Homo sapiens: one gene and its partners. The protein of the gene in region 3 interacts with the protein of the main gene of each other region in a biochemical or structural test. Each region holds a gene or a part of one and is shown on either strand. Other genes may lie near its edges.

The links.
Region 1: the proteins of AXIN1 (region 3) and LRP6 interact in far-western blotting, tested with the Homo sapiens proteins (one study listed by BioGRID).
Region 2: the proteins of AXIN1 (region 3) and AMER1 form a complex in vitro, tested with the Homo sapiens proteins (one study listed by BioGRID).

The regions. Positions count from the first base shown.
Region 1 is NC_000012.12:12,117,045-12,120,544, forward strand, and holds part of LRP6 (low-density lipoprotein receptor-related protein 6 isoform b precursor), read right to left. Parts: 3' UTR 1-3,500. UniProt on the Homo sapiens protein: Component of the Wnt-Fzd-LRP5-LRP6 complex that triggers beta-catenin signaling through inducing aggregation of receptor-ligand complexes into ribosome-sized signalosomes.
Region 2 is NC_000023.11:64,199,104-64,202,830, forward strand, and holds part of AMER1 (APC membrane recruitment protein 1), read right to left. Parts: intron 1-3,727. UniProt on the Homo sapiens protein: Regulator of the canonical Wnt signaling pathway.
Region 3 is NC_000016.10:297,016-300,742, reverse strand, and holds part of AXIN1 (axin-1), read left to right. Parts: intron 1-1,538; coding exon of another isoform or gene 1,539-1,559; exon of another isoform or gene 1,560-1,732; intron 1,733-2,444; coding exon of another isoform or gene 2,445-2,468; exon of another isoform or gene 2,469-2,483; intron 2,484-2,491; coding exon 2,492-3,021; intron 3,022-3,516; coding exon 3,517-3,687; intron 3,688-3,727. UniProt on the Homo sapiens protein: Component of the beta-catenin destruction complex required for regulating CTNNB1 levels through phosphorylation and ubiquitination, and modulating Wnt-signaling.

The DNA of each region.
Region 1 (3,500 bases), on a different chromosome or scaffold from region 3:
TTTTGAAACTATTATAAAATGGTGCCATCCCAAAAGTCAGAAGCCACACATGCACTACAAGTACTTTCTAAAATCATCTTTCACTACAAGTACTTTCTAAAATCATCTTTCTCTTGGTTCATTTTAGGCTTAAGAAATACCAAATAAAATTAAATTCCTTGGGTTTAAGAATTCTGATAATGTTTTAAACAACACCTGACTATAAGCTTCTTTAGGACTCAGTCCACACTTAGTGCATAGTCTCATCTGTAGATGCCCAAATATTTGTCCACCTACTGATAACTGGTCAACACACTCATATCCATACTCTAAATCAACTATGGATGCCATATGTAGACTTAAGCACCACACATTTATTAAGAGCTGACATATTTCGGATGTGAAAAGTCCAAGATTTTTGTTTCTGAATCTTGTTAGATACGTAATGATAACCAATATGTAATTCCTATGGCATGCAAATGAATGAAGTGGGACAAAGCTTCCCCTACAAGAAATAAAACAATTCAAAATATGACATTTCTAAGAATCTAATCTAGGCAGCTGCAGCCTGTTTACTGCATAGAAGTAGGCGTGCTTAACGCATACCTCTTCAGTCTCTATTATGACTACTGGTATCAAGTCACATAAATAAACACACTTCATTAACACACTAGGTAAGCTACAGCTATTAACTCTACTGGAAGTATTCTTCATTAATAGGGCTTTATAGCAAAAGAAAAAGATGATCCTCCAAAACTGCTACCTAATACAGATGATGGCTATTTTTAATACCTTCAATAATGAATGAGTTTCCTTCATATAAATTACTGACTTTAGGATATTTTTAAATGATAAAGAAATACAACCCTCAAAATCATCTTAAAATTGTACTGCTCAAAGCCCCTTCCCCCAATTACTGGCCTATATTAGATTAAAATGTACTTTAAAGTCTTCATTTCTAAGTACCTATCATCTCTGTAGAATAGGTGTTCTCAAACTTACTAAAGAATCAGAGATCTCTTGGTAATGTATCACAAGCTACTTTTATATTAAAATTAAAGTAACTACATAATCTTCTGCTAAACAGATATCTTGTGATATGCTGTAAGAGTGGCAGAAAGTGCCAAAGGCATAATAAAATTTCATGGAAGAAAAATTAATAGTCAGAAAATTCTATCCACCAACTCTCTTTGTTTCCCTGTGAATGTGCTATTATCTGACTTAAGCAAACAAAACTCCTTAAGTCACTATTCAGAAGACCACGACTCTGTTGGAGCAAAGTCCAGGCCTTAGTTATAAAAGACCACTTCAATGCAGAATAGCTTACTGTGGTGCACACAAAGTATGTTATGCTCAAGTTTATTTCTTGGACAATTTTAATCACATCAGTTAGTGCATATATTTTAGGACACATGTTCAAAATAAATACTTTTGCATATAAGGAATCTAATGAAACATTATTCATTTTCCCCCTTGGACAATGAATTTAATACACCAAATTTAAAAATCCCTTTTCTTTTTTCCCCCTAATTTGTGATCTCATGCTTTTCCTCTCAACTTTTCCAATTACAGCTTGTGTTTGATAATCAATATACAGTTTACTTAAGCTTAACTGTCCATGTAACCTAAGGCTCAATAAATCTTTCCAAATTTGACAATTCTCTCATTAAAAAGTACTCCCAGAAATATTAAGAATCCATCTCATCTACCCCAGAAAGAGAACACTGAGATTAGGCTGAACTGCCTTCAAATAATTTTAAACAAATTGGCACACAAATTAGTATTTTGAAGAAGAGGCCATTGCCATCGCAGTGCAAGCACGTGGACTGAGATCCAACAAGGCAATATTCTTCTTAGTTAATTAGAGTGCAAGTCTCCACATGGGAAGCCCACCAGATCAAGATGCACATTTAAATATGTAAACATATAGAATTCTCAAATTCTAACTGACACCCAGGTATTGCTAACCTTTCCATCTTCATTTAAGCATCAAGTGCCCTGTGTATCACAGAATCCAAGTTCAATGTCCATTTTGTCTGACACTGTGGGCACTTAGTTCCAGCAATGGGAAGAGTTCATGCTTGTCTGTTTTAGGATTCTGATAGATTTACCATTTGCTTATATGCAAAATCAAGTGCACCTGATTCTTACAGTCTCCAACAATCAGCATTATTCTGAAACCACAATTTTATCTTCAAAAACTTTACTTAGGTATTTTTAACTTGCATGAACAGTTACTTCACCCTTGCCCAAATTCTGAATCCTTTCTTCCACTGTTTTCTCTTGGGCCCTGAAACCCAGAGAGGCCTTGGCAAGACAGAATTAAAAAAGAAAAAAAAAAAATTCAATAATTAACTGACCAACACCTCTTAAGCTAAAAATACATTAGTTTAAAACCATTCAATTTTAGCAGAGAAGTGCTACACATGTGTAAAAAGCAGGAAACGAACTTCTGGCAAGGTGGCAGAGCAAGTGCTAGAATCATTCCACAGGTCAGCCCTGATAGCTCAAGATGTAGCAGCCCCAGTACCATACATGACAGCAGGTCAGGCAGATCACAAAAGAGGCTTCCATTATTCCCTTCCACCCAAATTCTGACAGCTGAGAAGTTAACAGTTTGCCTTCTCATTTAATCCTCATTGTTAAATTTGTTAAACTATCTTAATCCATAATGGGTAAGAGAGGACCCACATAAAAATATTGGGTGATTACAAGAATAATTTGTGGATAATTTGAAAACAGCCTAACATTCACAGTGGGTAACAGAAAGATATTAAATTCATGTCACACATTAGAAGAGGTATGTATGTAGACATTATTCTGAGAAAAACCGGTCTAAAGAACATGAAAACATCACAAACTGTTAATATAGGGAAAATCCTAATAAGAAAAAAATCTTTTTAAATAGATTGTCTCTAACCAGAACATATTTAAATGTTTTACTCAGAAAACAAACAAACAAACAAAATATATATATATATATATATATATATATATATATATATATATATATATATATAAATGATTTCGTACTGTGATATATGCTGAAAGTAGTGCAAGGATATGAGATTTACAACAAAAACATAATGGTTAAATTTTTAATTCTTAAACATTGTCTATATGTGTTGTAAAAAGACATTTTAATGAGCATTAAAACAATCTTGGAAGAAGAGAAATAATATGTCTAACTTTTGATCATTATGCAAAAACAGCAGTCAAATTGAAGAGCTAAGCCTACTGGGGAATGGAGCTAGAAGAAATATTAAAATCAAGTTTAATTTAGAAAATTCCATTTAGTCAATGCTTCAGCTTAAAAAAATCATGGTATCTTAGCAAAATGACTTACCAAGTTGCTGGAGGAGGCAGCAAGGTAAACATACCTAGAGAAAAAAATTCATTTTGACAGAGGTATGGATTCTAAAGGTAGGGACAGAGACTTGCACACACACACAGCTTCATGGCATCTTACCAGAGGGCTGATCTCTCCTACAACAGCAACACCCAGAATGGGTTTTTAGAAA
Region 2 (3,727 bases), on a different chromosome or scaffold from region 3:
TGCTGAGGGGCACCTCCTGCCCAGAGGGCATCTCACCAACTCCAGATGCAGCAAGACCCCAAATTGGGACTTCTCTCTCCTGTCCCAATTCCCCCACCAGCCCCTCTCAACTGATTTGTTTACATACTGAGCTTTGTATAATTCATCCTGACGGGCTTTGGTCTGTTCATTCATCTCTCTCAAATTGACCCTCCTTCATCTTACAGTCACTACAACTAGCACACAGCAGGAGCTCAAACAATGCTGATTCAACTGAATTCTAATTCACCTGAAGTTTCTTGGTGCGGAACTGGAATGCCAGCCTCACCTTCTATAGGCTGTGTGGTTTGAGAAAGTGGCCTAACCTCTCTGACACTCAAATGCCTTATCTGTAAAATGAAGAAAATGCTATCTACCATGCAGGATTGTGGTAAGGATTAGAGATGATCAATGTAAAAGCAAACTGGTAACTACATACTAAGCAGATATTCAATAAAGGGCTCTTGTGATGAGGCCACTTGTAGGCACCTTTTCCTCTCCAGCTCCCCAATTGCCACCCCACATTCTCCGAAGATGACACAAGCCTCTTAGCTGAGCTCCCTCTAGTCCCTCCCTACCGCAGCACCCCCTGGCTCCCCTCTCCCATCTCATTCATCCTGTACGTTGTTGCCAGATTCATTTTCTTACAACTCCTGTTTCAGCACTTCACTCCTCCACTTACCAAATTATTCTGCATTGCCTACAGGATAAGGGCCAAAACCCTATGTCTGATGTTAAAGGCTTGCTCTCCCTGAATGCTCCTTACAAGTTTCTCAGCCTTGTTTCTCTGCCTCTTGGCCCCAGCCCCAAATACACAGGGGTTTGCCCAGTCTGGGAGATGTGGTCACCCAGATACCACCTCTCCCTAGAAATGGGCTTTCCTGGTGAGTCTTCTTAGTGCCCCAGGTTCCTCCTCAGGCTCTTGAGGTCCCCTCCCTGCCCAGCTTGCCTTGAATGACAGGGACTTTGGGAGCCACTTACTTGCCACTCCCATCTTAGGCTCCCAAACTTTCTTAGAGAGAAGTGTATCTGAAGTGGGTACCATGCCCGCCTGCATAGGCTTCCACTAAGTCAGTACTAGCCCAGCTAGAGCGAGATCAGACAGGTGCCAACCCTTCCCCACCCCCCGTTCAAATGAAGAATAGGAGAGGAGCTAACTCCAGAGAAACAGATGTGACAGAGCAGCCAAGGAAACCCTACAGAGGAGCAGCTGGGTCAAGTGAACAATGGATACCTCTGACTTTCCTATGTGTCCACTCCCCTCTACTAACCATGCCCTGTGTGAGAAACCAAGTGAGGAAACTGAAGCTTGGGAGGGGACAAGGAGAGTGTGATTCGAGGAAGAACTCTGGAATTGAATTGCGGACCAGGAGCTTTGGACTTCTGAGTTAACTTGAGCAAATCCTTTCCCTGTTCTGGACCTCAGTTTCTTCATATAGAAATGGGAGATTGGACCAGGGAGTCTGCTTGCTCCAAGTTGCCCTGAGAGGCTGGGGGAGGAGTGGTCTTGTGCCCAGTTTTCTAATGGCTGCTGAGTCAGAAGGCATAGCAGGGGGCACTGGATTGGCTTTGAGGGTCCTAGGTCTTACTGTTAGGCCTGGTTACCTAGCTGGTTCGACCTAGTTCACCACTTCAGGACAAAGGTGCACTGTGGCCCAGCCTCACTCCTTACACCACCCCTCAACATTTTGCTCTTTCAAAATGCACTGAGTCTGGCCTGTGAATATTTCCAACATATCCAGAAAGGAGGGGGGCCAGAACTGGTCATGCCATTCCTCATTCCCCTGAAAAGAGCCACAGCCCCCAGCAAGAAGGGCTGAGCAGATGGAGAGGGAGGGTTGAGGCATACTCACTAGGGATGGAGGGTTAGTATCCACTTGGAAGCCCAGCGGGGGTAAAAACTGTAGGAGATGAAAGCAATGAAACCTCTATGCTGAAAAAAAATGCACATCAAAGGGTCACAAAGGCCACTGCAGCACCAGTATGCCTGCCTATGACCACACCAAGCCCCTCAGGTCATTTTCTCCATTGTTCATATTTTCCCCTAATTCCAAAAGGGGAGGTGGAGGGAGCAACATACTCTTACTGGGCTAGCACCTGTACCTCTGTAGTGGTTCTGGTTCCCCTGCCTGCCTTTGCTAGAAATACACTTACACACGCACAGGTTTGAAAAATAAGACGAAGCAGAGGAGATGGAAGACTCTGAGATTATTTAATTCAGAGAACAGAAGTTGGGGGTGCAGAGAGAGTTTAATGCCTATGAAATCTCCAATAGATCGTTAAGCAGAAGAGCAATGGTGGCCAGCTGCTCGCAACTCCTTCCCCCAACACACACACACACACACACACACACACACACACACACACACAAGGTTTAACTATAGCATGACAGGCTCAGATTATCCCTGAGAAAGAACTGGGCAATGAGGCAGGTGACCCAGGAATGAGTGACACAGAAAGGCTATGAAATATTGCCTCAGGGGCTTAACCCTTTATCACCCACTGTATCTGCCCAGACAGGATTCAGGTAGGGAAATTGAAATAACATTGGACATTCTCTCTTCTAGCCTCAGATAGCCTATCTGTTAAGCAAGGGGGCTGGAAACCCCTTCTCCCTCTTGGTTCTACCTGCCAGGCTTGCTACTGTTTCCTAGTGGAGCAGAGTTGTTTCTTCCATACACACTATCTACGAGTGGAGATGTAACAGTTCTTCAGGAAATTTCGTGTTTCTTTGAGACAGGGTCTTGCTCTGCTGCCCAGCCTGGAGTGCAGTGGCATGATCATGGCTCACTGCAGCCTTGATGTCTCAGGCCCAAGAGAGGCTCCTGCCTCAGCCTTCCAAGTAGCTGGGACTACAGGTGCAAACCACCACACCTGGCTAAATTTTTGTATTTTTTGTAGAGATGAGGTTTTGCCATGTTGCCCGAGCTGGTCTCGAACTCCTGGGGTCAAGTGATCCACCCGGCTAGGCCTCCCAAAGTGCTGGAATTGCAGGTGTGAGCCACCAGGCCCAGCCCTTAAGGAATTTTTAATACCTCCACTATGCTAGGAGGGGATCATTAGACTGCCAAATTCTTCCAACTACCTCCTCTCCTTTTGAAATTTTCAGTCCCAGCAAAGCTATAGGCCAAGACCAAGAGGCAAAAGAGACATTAAACGAGTGAGAGGCTCCCCTTATGAAGTTCCCAAGTTAACTCAGCCCCCCTTTCCTCTTAGGGAATGAGGGAGGTAAGATGAGGGGGATGGTTAATGAAATCTACATTGATTGGAGGCTGCTGGTTCCATGGAACATAGTGGAAAGAGCCACTGCACGGGAAGCAGGAGCCTATCCTTAAATAGCTGTGTGACCTTAAGCGAGCCCCTGTTGCTTTCCAAGGCTAAGGATTCTCATCTGTAAGCATAGCAGTTCAAACTGGTGCTCCCCAAGGACTGCCCATCTGAGAGGAAGGTGTTCAGCAGAGGCCTGGGGAACACTTCTCAGCCCCACTTCCCACCTCTTCCTGCCCTTTCCCCTGCAATGCCAAAGGGAGGCTGACATAGTAAAACTTTCCTTTGGAGGTAGCCTGCCCGCAGCTCTACTTCCAGATCCAAAGGTGACCTCTTAACTGGCTGACTTTGCAGCATGCTTCTGATCCCTTTCTAAGACCCCATTCTAAAACTCATTCAAAAACCTTGTTTTTATTACTGCTTAGTTACATACAAAAATAGC
Region 3 (3,727 bases):
GGGAGGCAGCATAGCTGCATCCGCCAGGGGATGCCCACCACCCACCTGTCCCCCGGCTCTGCTCCAGCATCCGTCTGTCCTCTTTAGTGCCATATTTCACCCTCAGCCCCAGTGCAGGTGCCCGCAGCCAAGCCCACACCAGCTCTGGGGCACGCCTGTTCCAGTTGCATTTGGATACTTTTGCAGGTGTGAGAGTTGGGTGCTAAACGTTGGGAGGTTTGTTTATATTAAAATATAGAGGTAGGTGGGGCACAGTGGCTCACATCTGTAATCCCAACACTTTGAGAGGCCAAGACAGAAGGATCACTTGAGGCCAGGAATTTAAGAGCAGGTTGGACAACATAGTGAGATTCCCCATCTCTACAAAAAAAAAAGAAAAAGAAAAAATTAATGGGACATGGTGGCATGCACCTGTAGTCCCAGCTACTTGGCAGGCTGAAGCAGGAGGATCGCTTGACCCCTGGAGGTTGAGGCTGCCTTGAGCTGTGATGGCACCACTGCGATTAGGTGTGGTGGCTCACACCTGTAATCCTAGCACTTTGGGAGGCCAAGGTGGGTGGATCACCTGAGGTCAGGAGTTCGAGACCAGCCTGGCAAACAGGGTGAAACCCAGTCTCTACTAAAAATACAAAAAATTTAGCTGGGCATGGTGGTGGGTGCCTGTAATCCCAGCTACCCGGGAGGCTGAGGCAGGAGAATTACTTGAACCCGGGAGGCGGAGATTGCACTACAGCCTGGGACACAAGAGTGAAACTCCGTCTCAAAAAAAAATTAAATAAATAAAAATAGGCCGGGCACGGTGGCTCACACTTGTAATCCCAGCACTTTGGGAGGCCGAGGTGGGCAGATCACGAGGTCGGGAGATCGAGACCATCCTGGCTAACACGGTGAAACTCCATCTCTACTAAAAATATAAAAAATTAGCCGGGCGTGGTGGCGGGCACCTGTAGTCCCAGCTACTGGGCAGGCTGAGGCAGGAGAATGGTGTGAACCCGGGAGACGGAGGTTGCAGTGAGCCGAGATCGTGCCACTGCACTCCAGCCTGGGTGACAGAGCGAGACTCTGTCTCAAAAAAATGAAAATAAATAGGCCGGTTGTGGTGGCTCACTCCTGTAATCCCAGCACTTTGGGAGGCCGAGGGTGGTGGATTACCTGAGGTTAGGAGTTTGAGACCAGCCTGGCCAACATGGTGAAACCCCGTCTCTACTAAAAATACAAAAAAATTAGGCAGGCATGGTGGCACACTCCTATAATCCCAGCTACTCGGTAGGCTGAGGCAGGAGGATTGCTTGAGCCCGGGAGGTGGAGGTTGCAGTGAGCCAAGATCGTGCCACTGCACTCCAGCCTGGCTGACAGAGCGACTCTGACTCTAAATAAATAAATACATACATAGATACATGGTAACTTAGTTCCCTCTCTTTCTTTTGTATTGACACCAGATTTACTCAATACTGTTTTAGTTTGTCAGTCCAATAAGATGAGAAAATAAGTATGAGATGCAACTTGGAATTAAAGTGATCAAATGTTTGCTCTGACAGATAAGCTTCAGCACCTGTTAACTTGGAGAATCAAGTGAAACTCCACCGGCTTCATGTGGAAGCTCGTCAGGCAGCATCACAACATGTACATAACCCAAGAGCCGTTCTGTACAAGGTTCTCCTTAAAATATAATGGGAGGCCGGGCGCGGCGGCTCATGCCTGTCATCCCAACACTTTGGGAGGCCGAGGTGGGTGGATCATGAGGTCAGGAGTTCGAGACCAGCCTGGCCAACATAGTGAAATCCTGTCTCTACTAAAAATACAAAAATTAGCTGGGTGTGGTGGCGCACACCTGTAGTCTCAGCTACTTGGGAGGCTGAAGGAGGAGAATCACTTGAACCCAGGAGGCAGAGGTTGCAGGGAGCCGAGATGGCACCATTGCACTCCAGCCTGGGTAACAGAGCAAGACTCTGTCTCAAAAAATATATATATATACAGGCCAAGGCAGGCAGATTGCTTGAGCTCAGGCATTCGAGACCAGCCTGGCCAATATGGTGAGAATCGCATCTGTCCCCAAAGTACAAAAAAATTAGCTGGGCGTGGTGGCACACGGCTGTGGTCTCCGCTATTCTGGAGGCTGAGGTGGGAGGATCGCTTGAGCCTAGGAGGCGGAGGCTGCAGTGAGCTGAGATCACACCACTGTTCTCCAGCCTGGGCAACAGAGCAAGAACTTGTCTCAAAAAAAGAATAAAACTAAACTAAATCTGTGCAGAGCTCTGCCCACAGCCGATACATACGCTGCATTCCTTGAGGCCTTGCTGTCTCCGCTCCTTCTGTCTATGCCCCGTCCTGCCTCTCCATCCTCAGGGACAGGACCGGTGGCGAGGGGCCCCCGGCCACCCTGGGCTGGGACGGCATCTGCTGGGGCTGCTGGGTCAGGCCTGATGCTTTTTGTTTTCCCCAAGTGTGCAGCTGGTGCTGAGAGGTGATGGTGCTGCTTGTCCCCACACAGGAGGAGGAAGGTGAGGACGGCGATCCATCGTCAGGGCCCCCAGGGCCGTGTCACAAGCTGCCTCCCGCCCCCGCTTGGCACCACTTCCCGCCCCGCTGTGTGGACATGGGCTGTGCCGGGCTCCGGGATGCACACGAGGAGAACCCTGAGAGCATCCTGGACGAGCACGTACAGCGTGTGCTGAGGACACCTGGCCGCCAGTCGCCTGGGCCTGGCCATCGCTCCCCGGACAGTGGGCACGTGGCCAAGATGCCAGTGGCACTGGGGGGTGCCGCCTCGGGGCACGGGAAGCACGTACCCAAGTCAGGGGCGAAGCTGGACGCGGCCGGCCTGCACCACCACCGACACGTCCACCACCACGTCCACCACAGCACAGCCCGGCCCAAGGAGCAGGTGGAGGCCGAGGCCACCCGCAGGGCCCAGAGCAGCTTCGCCTGGGGCCTGGAACCACACAGCCATGGGGCAAGGTCCCGAGGCTACTCAGAGAGTGTTGGCGCTGCCCCCAACGCCAGTGATGGCCTCGCCCACAGGTGAGCGTGCGCCTGTCAGTGAGGAGGGGGCTTGGGGTGAGGCTGTGTCCCTGCAGAAGGCCAGAACCTCCTCATAAAACTCAGGAAACCCAGGACCGCCAGCAACAGGCAGGAGGCCCCTCTGCTGGAGGGAGTGGACTGGGCCCTGGGTCAGGGGAGTCCACGCCGTGACCTCAGGTGGGAGATGAAGGTTAGGGGACACAGCCCGACCCTGGCTCCCGCTCTGGCCCTCAGTCTTCAGGGGGTGAGCAGTGACTGCCTGTGTGTTTAGAGAGGAAACCAACCCCCAGACAGCACCAGGACAGCGGGCAGGGGACAGCGGGTGGGGGACAAGCTGGCGGGGGACAGCGGGTGGGGGACAAGCGGGCAGGGGACAGCGGGCGGCGGCTGCACCACGGGAGCCTTACAGATGCCAGGAGGGGGCCTCGCAGACGAGGAAGGGGCACAGCCTCGGCCACCGGAGGCCAGGGCGACTCGCAGCTCTTGCCCTTGCAGTGGGAAGGTGGGCGTGGCGTGCAAAAGAAATGCCAAGAAGGCTGAGTCGGGGAAGAGCGCCAGCACCGAGGTGCCAGGTGCCTCGGAGGATGCGGAGAAGAACCAGAAAATCATGCAGTGGATCATTGAGGGGGAAAAGGAGATCAGCAGGCACCGCAGGACCGGCCACGGGTGAGCACCCCGCACGCAGCCAGCCTCGTGGGGCCTGCTT